3 separate regions of the Homo sapiens genome follow, and regions 1 and 2 are each linked to region 3. The links come from fine-mapping of genetic effects on gene expression. A gene starts in region 3. Each other region holds a variant in brackets. All regions are shown on one strand. Distances are between the middles of the regions. Region 1 overlaps LOC102724234 (a long non-coding RNA gene). Region 2 has its middle 45 kb from the start of SSR1. Region 3 holds the start of SSR1 (signal sequence receptor subunit 1).

Evidence for each region. PIP is the estimated chance that this variant, and not a neighbour inherited with it, causes the effect.
Region 1: its variant is the best candidate, but not a certain one, in a credible set for the expression of SSR1 in whole blood (INTERVAL, PIP 0.89).
Region 2: its variant is the best candidate, but not a certain one, in a credible set for the expression of SSR1 in whole blood (INTERVAL, PIP 0.86).

The regions. Positions count from the first base shown.
Region 1 is chr6:7,440,164-7,442,919 of GRCh38, forward strand. All of the region lies in intron 2 of LOC102724234 (a long non-coding RNA gene), which reads left to right. Among named protein-coding and RNA genes, the nearest start is that of RIOK1, 52 kb to the left of the region's middle. The variant G/A (reference allele first, on the strand shown) is at 1,358.
Region 2 is chr6:7,266,811-7,269,566 of GRCh38, forward strand. No RefSeq gene overlaps it. Among named protein-coding and RNA genes, the nearest start is that of SSR1, 45 kb to the right of the region's middle. RefSeq lists an enhancer at 526-1,027 and a silencer at 606-900. The variant C/CA (reference allele first, on the strand shown) is at 1,611.
Region 3 is chr6:7,312,210-7,314,915 of GRCh38, forward strand. It overlaps SSR1 (signal sequence receptor subunit 1), which reads right to left and starts at 990. Exons shown (of 8, transcript NM_003144.5): 1 at 833-990. The coding sequence starts at 911. RefSeq lists enhancers at 154-1,022, 1,023-1,889, 1,226-1,295, 1,306-1,365 and silencers at 446-495, 626-735.

The DNA.
Region 1 (2,756 bases), 130 kb after region 3:
ACTTATTTTTCATCTCCTTGTCATTTTACTCTGGGAGATTTCCAGTTTTACCTTGAACTTTTCATTTCTATTATATTTTTAATTTCCAATAGATCTTTCTTTGTTCTCTTGAATGCTACTTTAAAAAAACTCATTGTGGGCCGGGCGCGGTGGCTCATGCCTGTCATCCCAGCACTTTGGGAGGTTGAGGTGGGCGGATCACGAGGTCAGGAGATCGAGACCATCCCTGGCCAACATGGTGAAACCCCGTCTCTACTAAAAATAAAAAAATTAGCCTGGCGTGGTGGCGCGTGCCTGTAATCCCAGCTACTCCAGAGGCTGAGGCAGGAGAATCACTTGAACCTGGGAGGCGGAGGTTGCAGTGAGCTGAGATCACGCCACAGCACTCCAGCCTGGCGACAGAGAGAGACTCCGTCTCAAAACAAAACAAAAAACTAAAACAAAACAAAAAACCTCATTGCATTCTTCTTTTATGAATACACTCTCTTTTCTCTATATTGCTGTCATCTGGCTTTAAAAACATGCTGTCCTGACTTGGTTTTGAGTCTCTAGCTAGAGACAGGTCAGTTTCCCTTATTAATACTCGAGGGGGTTCTGGAAGTTATCTTTTCTCTGCAGTGTCCCATTTCCCCAAGTTGCTTTTCCCCCTTCCTTGCGTCTCCTTGATATTAGAGACTTTGGTGGTATGCTGCTGCATTCTTTAGGGTGTAAACATTCACACCACCCTCCCCACTGACTCTCGGGTCCTCCCCCGCAGCTGTGCCCCTGGTCCCCAGTGCAGAGACCTTCTCCTTTCCCCTCTCCTGAAAATACATCTGTCCCCAGGCTTGTGCTGCAGTGGGAAAGGGCCCGTCCAGGAGTCGGGGAGGGATCCTGGAATTTAAAAGCATCTTTAACAGCTCCTCCTCAGAAACCCAGTCACACTTCCTTCCCCGCTAGTGAGAGGTGCCAGCCTGCTGGCAGCCCCCCTTCGCTCTTGGCACCTCCTCGGCCTCGACGCCCACTCTGGCCGTGCTTGAGGAGTCCTTCAGCCTACCGCTGCACTGTGGGATCCCTTCCAGGGATGGCCGAGGCCGGAGCCGGCTCCCTTGGCTTGCGGGGAGGTGTGGAGGGACAGGCACGGGCAGTAACCGGGGATGCGCGCGGCGCTTGCGGGCCAGAGCGAGTTCTGGGTGGGCTTGGGCTCGGCCGGCCCCGCCGGCCCAGGCAGTGAGGAACTTAGCACTTGGGCCAACAACGGCTGTCCTCGATTTCTTGCCAGGCCTTAGCTGCTTCCCCATGGGGCAGGGCTCGGGACCTGCAGCCCACCATGCCTGAGCCCCCCGTCCCAACCCCGCCCTGGGCTCCTGCACAGCCC[G/A]AGTCTCCTGAGCCTCCCGGACGAGCGCCGCCCCCTACTTCACAGCACAGAGTCCCATTGACCGCCCAAAGGACTAAACAGTGCGGGTCCACGGGCGGGACTGACAGCTCTACCTGCGGCCCCGCTGGGGAATACCACCGGGTGAAGCCAGCTGGGCTCAGTCAGTCTGGTGGGGACTTGAACAATCTTTATGTCTAGCTAAGGGGTTGTAAATACACCAATCAGCACTCTGTATCTAGCTCAAGGTTTGTAAACACACCAATCAACACCCTCTGTCTAGCTCAGGGTTTGTGGCTGCACCAATCGGCACTCTGTATCTAGCTAATCTGGTGGGGACTTGGAGAACCTTTTTATCTAGCTAAGGGATTGTGAATACACCAATCGGCACTCTGTATGTAGATGAAGGTTTGTAAATGCACCAATCAGCACCCTGCGTCTAGCTCAAGGTTTGTAAATGCACCAATCGGCGTTCTGTGTCTAGCTGATCTGGTGGGGACTTGCAGAACCTTTATGTCTATCTAAGGGATTGTGAATGCACCAATCGGCACTCTGTATCTAGCTCAAAGTTTGTAAATGCACCAATCAGCACTCTGTGTCTAGCTCAGGGTTTGTAAATACACCAATTAACACTCTGCATCTAGTTAATCTAGTGGGGACGTGGAGAACTTTTGTGTCTAGCTCAGGGATTGTAAACGCACCAATCAGCACCCTGTTAAAAACGGACCAATCAGCTCTCTGTAAAACAGACCAATCGGCTCTCTGTAAAATGGACCAATCAGCAGGATGTGGGTGGGGCCAGATAAGAGAATAAAAGCAGGCTGCCCGAGCTAGCCCCGGTAATTTGGTTAGTTTGTTTCATATGATGTGAGATATTTGTCTTTTTTTTTTTTGTTTTTTGGGTTCAGATTGTTGTTGGGAGTTTCAGCGGTTTTTTGCTAAAGTCTGTAGATTTTTCTGAATCTAATGTGGGTTGTGAGCCCTTGAAAAAGAACAGAGAACTTCAGATATGGTACTTTAAGTATGATAACATGAACTGTGAAGGTCTGCAGCTTTACTCCCGAACTAGTGAGACAGCGAACTCTGGGCAACGCTGTGTTTAACAGCTGGAACACTCACTGTACAGCTAAAACACTTTAAGTTTGCAACTTCGTTCTTGAAATTAGTAAGACCGAGAACCCGCTAGTTCTGGACACACTAGTTCCCAGGGTTACCAGGTGCTGCCTCTTTATGAAAGGCTGAGGCTTTTTGGCTGTTAGCTTTTCTCTATCTAGTATTCGGCTTTTCTCAGGTTAGTTATTTGCCCTACCGCTGACGTTTGTCTTGTACGTTTTTCCGCAGTTTTCTTTTAAGCGCTCTATTCTTGTGGGTGGTTTTGTTTTGGTAATTCAGGAAAGAAAAT
Region 2 (2,756 bases), 45 kb before region 3:
AAATTAATATGTGGTTTCCTCTCTTGCTTGGTACAGCATTGGTACCATGAGTAGTCCCAGCCATAGACCTGCAAAGATGGGATTTGGAAGCTGGTTGTGCCTTTGGGCTTGAGCACAGTGCTGAGCTCCTTGCTGGTGGTACATTGGGTTCCTACTGGGAACAGACTTATCATTCCCAGGGGCCCTTCTTCCAATCCTGTGTAGCCTGCTGATAAATGATCACCCCTAGATCCAGGACGTGACCAAGCCCCACGGGTGATGGCAGCACAGCCTTCCAAGGGACATCTGGGGTTTCCACCTGTGACCTTGGTAACACTGGAAGCATTTCTGGGTGCTGGAATCAAGGCACTGCATGGATGCCCAGAAATGCTCCTAAGTGGCCTCAGAGCCACAGGTCTCTGCTGCACCGCTTAGGAGATGGCATCACCCTGAGCAAGGGACCCTGGCGGGGACCACTGGGCGGCGTGACCCAGGCTCACCCATCTTCAGATCGGGGCACTGGGTGTCTGTCATATGTCCAGAATACCATACTACTGTCACAGGCCGGGCTTGAAACCAAGGATGGGCACACAGAAGAGAAAGGCACATCTGGTCAAATCAAAGTGCTGCAAATATTGCGACTGTCCCGGCACCTCAGTCTCAGGAGAGCCAGTGAGGGCTTCCTTCAGTCTGGCTGATGCCTCATCTCTCTCCAATCCATCTTTTTCTCAGAGGCCCCTGTACCAGCATCACCCATCAGGGAACTGATCAGCAAGCAATTCTGGGCCCAATTCCAGGCCGACTGACTCAGAATTTCGGGGGTGGAGCCCAGCAGTCTGTGTGTGGACAAGTCCTGCAGGCAACTGTGCTGTGTGGTGAAGTGCAACAATTACTCATGTGCCAGGGGCAAATCCTGGCAGGCCCAGCCTGCAAATCACTGAATGCCCCCGCACCCCCGCTGGCTGACAGAGGCTTACCACCCGCCCCCAACACACACACTGTCAATCTCTGAATTCCCATGTAGAGCTTGTTTTAAAATGCAGCTTCCTGGGTCGGCTCCCTGAGATTCTGCTGGAGTAGGTATGTGTGTGTGTTCTGGGTGGTTCTGATGCGTGTGGCTCACAGGCTGAGTGTGCGATGCCTCTCTCTGCCTGTGACTCTGTGTGCACGTGTGTGCCTCTGTCAGGTGGCAAGTGAGCACTGCGTCTCCGCCCTCTCCTGTGTTCGCCTCAGATGCAGCGCACCTCTGCTCCTGTTGCCTCCCAGGTCCCCTGTGTCCTTCTTACCTTCACCTTTTTCCAAAATCCCCACTCCCATTCTCAAAGGCTCAGCTCAAAGATCTCCTCCTCCTGAAGCCTCTCGCCCCCCTCCCCACTCCCACCCACCACCCCCAATATGTTCTTGCTGCAAGTCCATAATATTAGTTATGGGCCCGGCTAGTGTGAAGACAGGCAGCGGCTGTCTTACTCAGCTGTGACTCCCCAGAGCCTGGCACTCAGCAAGAGATTCATACTTATTTGTAGGCCTTTCAATTCAGTTTATTTCAGTCTAATCTGATTCAGGGCAATTCAACTCCACTCACGTCAGCACAAGGGAAGAGCGCCCCGGAGCCCACAATGGGCACCAACACA[C/CA]AGACAGTGGCCTCAGGCAGCCCGGCTGGAAGGAGCCCACTGGTCTCACAGGCGTAACCCGTGTTTGCAGGCATAACTCGTGCGCACGTGTGGCACTGCTCGGCCTGGGCACCGAGCGCTCCCCGTGCCTCAGGTCCCTCCAGACATGCCCCCTCCACCGCCCCTCCTGAGGACGCTCATCTTTGAAAATGTCCTAAGACGGAACTGGAAGCTCTAAGGTACGCGTTCCAACCATCACGTGGCAGGGGCTGGTGGGCTTCACGCAGAGCCCCCTGTCTTCTGGCCTCATTCACCATCAGTGTAGTGGGTGGGGACAGCTGACCCAAGGGCCCTACTGCATGGGTCGCACGGTTCAGCCAGTCCTTGCTGGCGGGACCTGCATCCCCATCCTACTGGCTGGCAGAGTAGGACTGGTTTCCTGGGACATCTCCACCCAGAAACAGCACACGACAGCTGTTATTCATCAGCCACAAAGCCCTAGTGACACAGCCATGCCCAGCGGTGACTTCCCAGAGCCATCCGGCGGAGGGCCCGGTTGAACAGGCGGCTGCTGTCCTAAGTTTCACAAATTGCAAAACGATGCAGAAAAGATGGCCGGGTCTCCAGGAACGGCTGTGCTGGGGGATGTCCTGAAGCAGCCACGGCGGAAGCGCTGGCCTTGCACCTGGAGACTGCGAGGCGCCCGAGCTGCAGGAGCGGCCCGATGTCATCAGTGCGTCTCCCTCCTCCTGCGTCTGAAAGAGCAAAGGGAGACAGTGACCTCCTGAGAGGCTTCCAGACGCCCCGCCAGGCACTTCCCTACTGGTGCATGAAGTGTGTGGCTGGACAGAGGCAGCAGGGCGGGGGGCCCAAGACTCTCTGCTGCTCTGTCCAGGCCAAATAGTTCCCACAATCAAAGACCCAGAGACTCTCCCCTCACACCCATCCACCCTCCCATGAAGAAACACATGGAAAAATCTAGGATGGGGTTCCAAGTTTCTAAAACTGGTCCATTCTGTGATTCCCCAAAGGAAGGATAAATATCATGCTTTTTTCTTGGGATTTGATCAGAGTTTCATGCTTTCAGTGAGAATCTGGCATAAAAAGAAACCCCAACATTTAGCCATGCTTCACGAGTAAAGCAGTGAAAACTGCACACAAAGACCT
Region 3 (2,706 bases):
TATTCTGCTAAGTTATTTTCACACTTAATTGCTGGGTTAATTGTTGAAAGAATAAATCTATGTATTAAAAACACTCGAAGTAGGCCACATTTTTTCAGCACAATACGATGTTTCCACAAACAAAAAATTGTTCCATGGAAAGACAAGAAGAGGAAGAAGGCAGAAGGGAGACATCCCACAGGGATTCTTCAGTCTGCTTGGCAGCAGGGGCGGATAACGGGGGTGACGATGGGGTAGTTTTTCTGAAATCAAGCCTCCTAGTAACACATACGGGTCAAGCAGGGCGTGAACAAGGCAGATGACCATTGAACAAGACACTCTGATGGCTTAGATGTGTAGAAAACAAGGGTTTTGGCAAATGAATGAAGACGGACTCCCGGCGTGGAAGCTAAAGACACGTCAGCCCTGAGCGCGAGGGGCTGGGGGTGGAGCGGAGCCGGAGGTGGCCAAAAGAAACAGCCCGGCTGCGGCGCGCTCGGAGCGCAGCCGTGTCCAGCGCCTCCTCCTGCAGCCGAGGACCCTCCAGTTCTGGCCGCTCCTGCAGGCGAGGGTCCAGGGCAAGAGGAGCAAGCCCAGCCCTCGGCCGGCCACGAAGCAAGGTCGCCCGGGCACGGCCCCGCGCTCCGCGTGCAAGGGGCAGGCCGCAGCGGGGTCTCCAGCGCCCGCGGGGACCCCTGCTGCTACGAGCCTAGGCTTGGGGAGAGGGCGGAGAGAGGCCAGCGGGGTGGACGCGGACCCCAGGACCCGGAGCGGCCACCGCCTCCAACTTCAAACTTGCCATCACTGGCATCTCCTTCCTGGCCATCCCCTCCGCACACTCCCCCAGCCTCACCTCTGGGGCCGCCTCGGAACAAGACAGTGGCAGGGAACACGAGTAAGAGAAGCAGCAGCAAGCGGGGGAGGAGTCTCATGGCGCTGCCGGTCCAGTGTCCAGTTTCCGTCGGCTAAGGCTCTCGGCGGCTCCGGCGGTAATGGCGTTACTCTTCATCCGGGCTCCGGGCAGCGAGGGGCGGGACACGTACCGCGCACGGGCCTTTGCCACGCCCCTCCCTGGACCAGGGACCGCCGCCGACGTGGCTGCTCAGCGCGGAGAGGTGGGGAGAGCAGGCCACCGGGAAGTCACGTGGCCGGCTGCTGCCTCTTTGTGGCTCCCGCGAGAGTCCGCCTTCCGCCGCAGTTGCGACCCGGCAGCTTGCGGTTAGCCGTTCTTTCCGCCCAGTTCTTTACTTCCAATTAATTAGCATTGTCAGTGGTTACTTTATTTGAATGACGATCCTCTTGATAACGGCGATGTAAGGAACATGAGCTGCCTTTATGTGGCACTTAAAAGCAAAAAATTTTGTTGGAAGAGAGGACATTGTTCAAAGGAAAAACCATGAAAATACACAGTGGAAAATCTTTGTCCCCTGTCTGCCCACACCCTCTCCCATGGTTAAGTAATGACAATTCTTAAATTATTATTTTTGAGACGAAGTCTTGCTCTGTCGCCCAGGCCAGAGTTCAGTGGCACCATCTCTGTTCACCGCAACCTCCGCCTCCCGGGTTCAAGCGATTCTCCCGCCTCAGCCTCCTAAGCAGCTGGGACTACAGGCGCGCACCACTACGCCCGGCTAATTTTTGTATTTTTACTGGAGACGGGGGTTTCACCATGTTGGCCAGACTAATCTCAAACTCCTGACCTCAGGTGATCCACCCGCCTGGGTCTCTCAAAGTGCTGGGATTACAGGTGTGAGCCACTGCGCCTGGCCAGCAATTCTTAAATTCGTATGTGACATTCCAGAATTATAAGTCACCTAAACAGTGTTTTGGTATGTAGTCAGCATTTGTAACTATACAATAGGTGCAGCAATGGCTGTCCAGTTTTCTTTAGTTTCCTTTTCATCTATTTTGGATTTGAGTTGCTGGAGTAATATAGCAGTTCATGAAATTAATCTGAATATTAAGTAATCTTGGTCTGGACCAGAGTGAGATGTCATAAAGATGAGGAAATAAATCATATGCTTACTATTGTCAATCACCTCCTTAGAGCTGTGCTTTTTCATTTAATTTTCTAAACCTCTCTATGAGCTGGATATTATTTACTGAGGAGAAAACAGACCCAGAGAGGTTAGTAATTTACTCAAAGCTTCAAAACGCTAGCAAACGGCAGATGCAAGATTTGAACAAGGCTATCTGGTTCCAGATTCCATACACTACTGACCTAGGACATTTGCTGTTCTACTCCTGCATTGTTTCCGCTTCAGGTCTCCTTGTCCTGGGGGCTGTAAATGCAGCTTGGACCCACTGCCACCACTACCTACAGTCTGCTAAAGTCACAGCCTGATGGTGCTGGGCTGAATCAACCAAATTCCACTCTGCCAGGCCACCAGTGGCACCGCTGCTGTGTTGCTGCTGCTACTAGGGCGCCCAGCATAAGTGGAGGGCCTCCTCTCACTTTGCTGCTGCCTCTGCTCCTGTGCACGCTACCAGTGTTGCCACTCTATGTCAGAGCTGTGTCTGGAATAGGGTTCTTGGTCTCACTGACTTTAAGACTGAAACCGCAGACCCTCGTGCTGAGTGTTACAGTTCTTAAAGTCCAGAGTTTGTTCCTTCATCATGTTCGGATGTGTTCCGAGTTTCTTCCTTCTGGTGGGTTCATGGTCTCACTGGCTCAGGAGTGAAGCTACTAGACCATCGCAGTGAGTGTTACAGCTGTTAAGGTGTCCA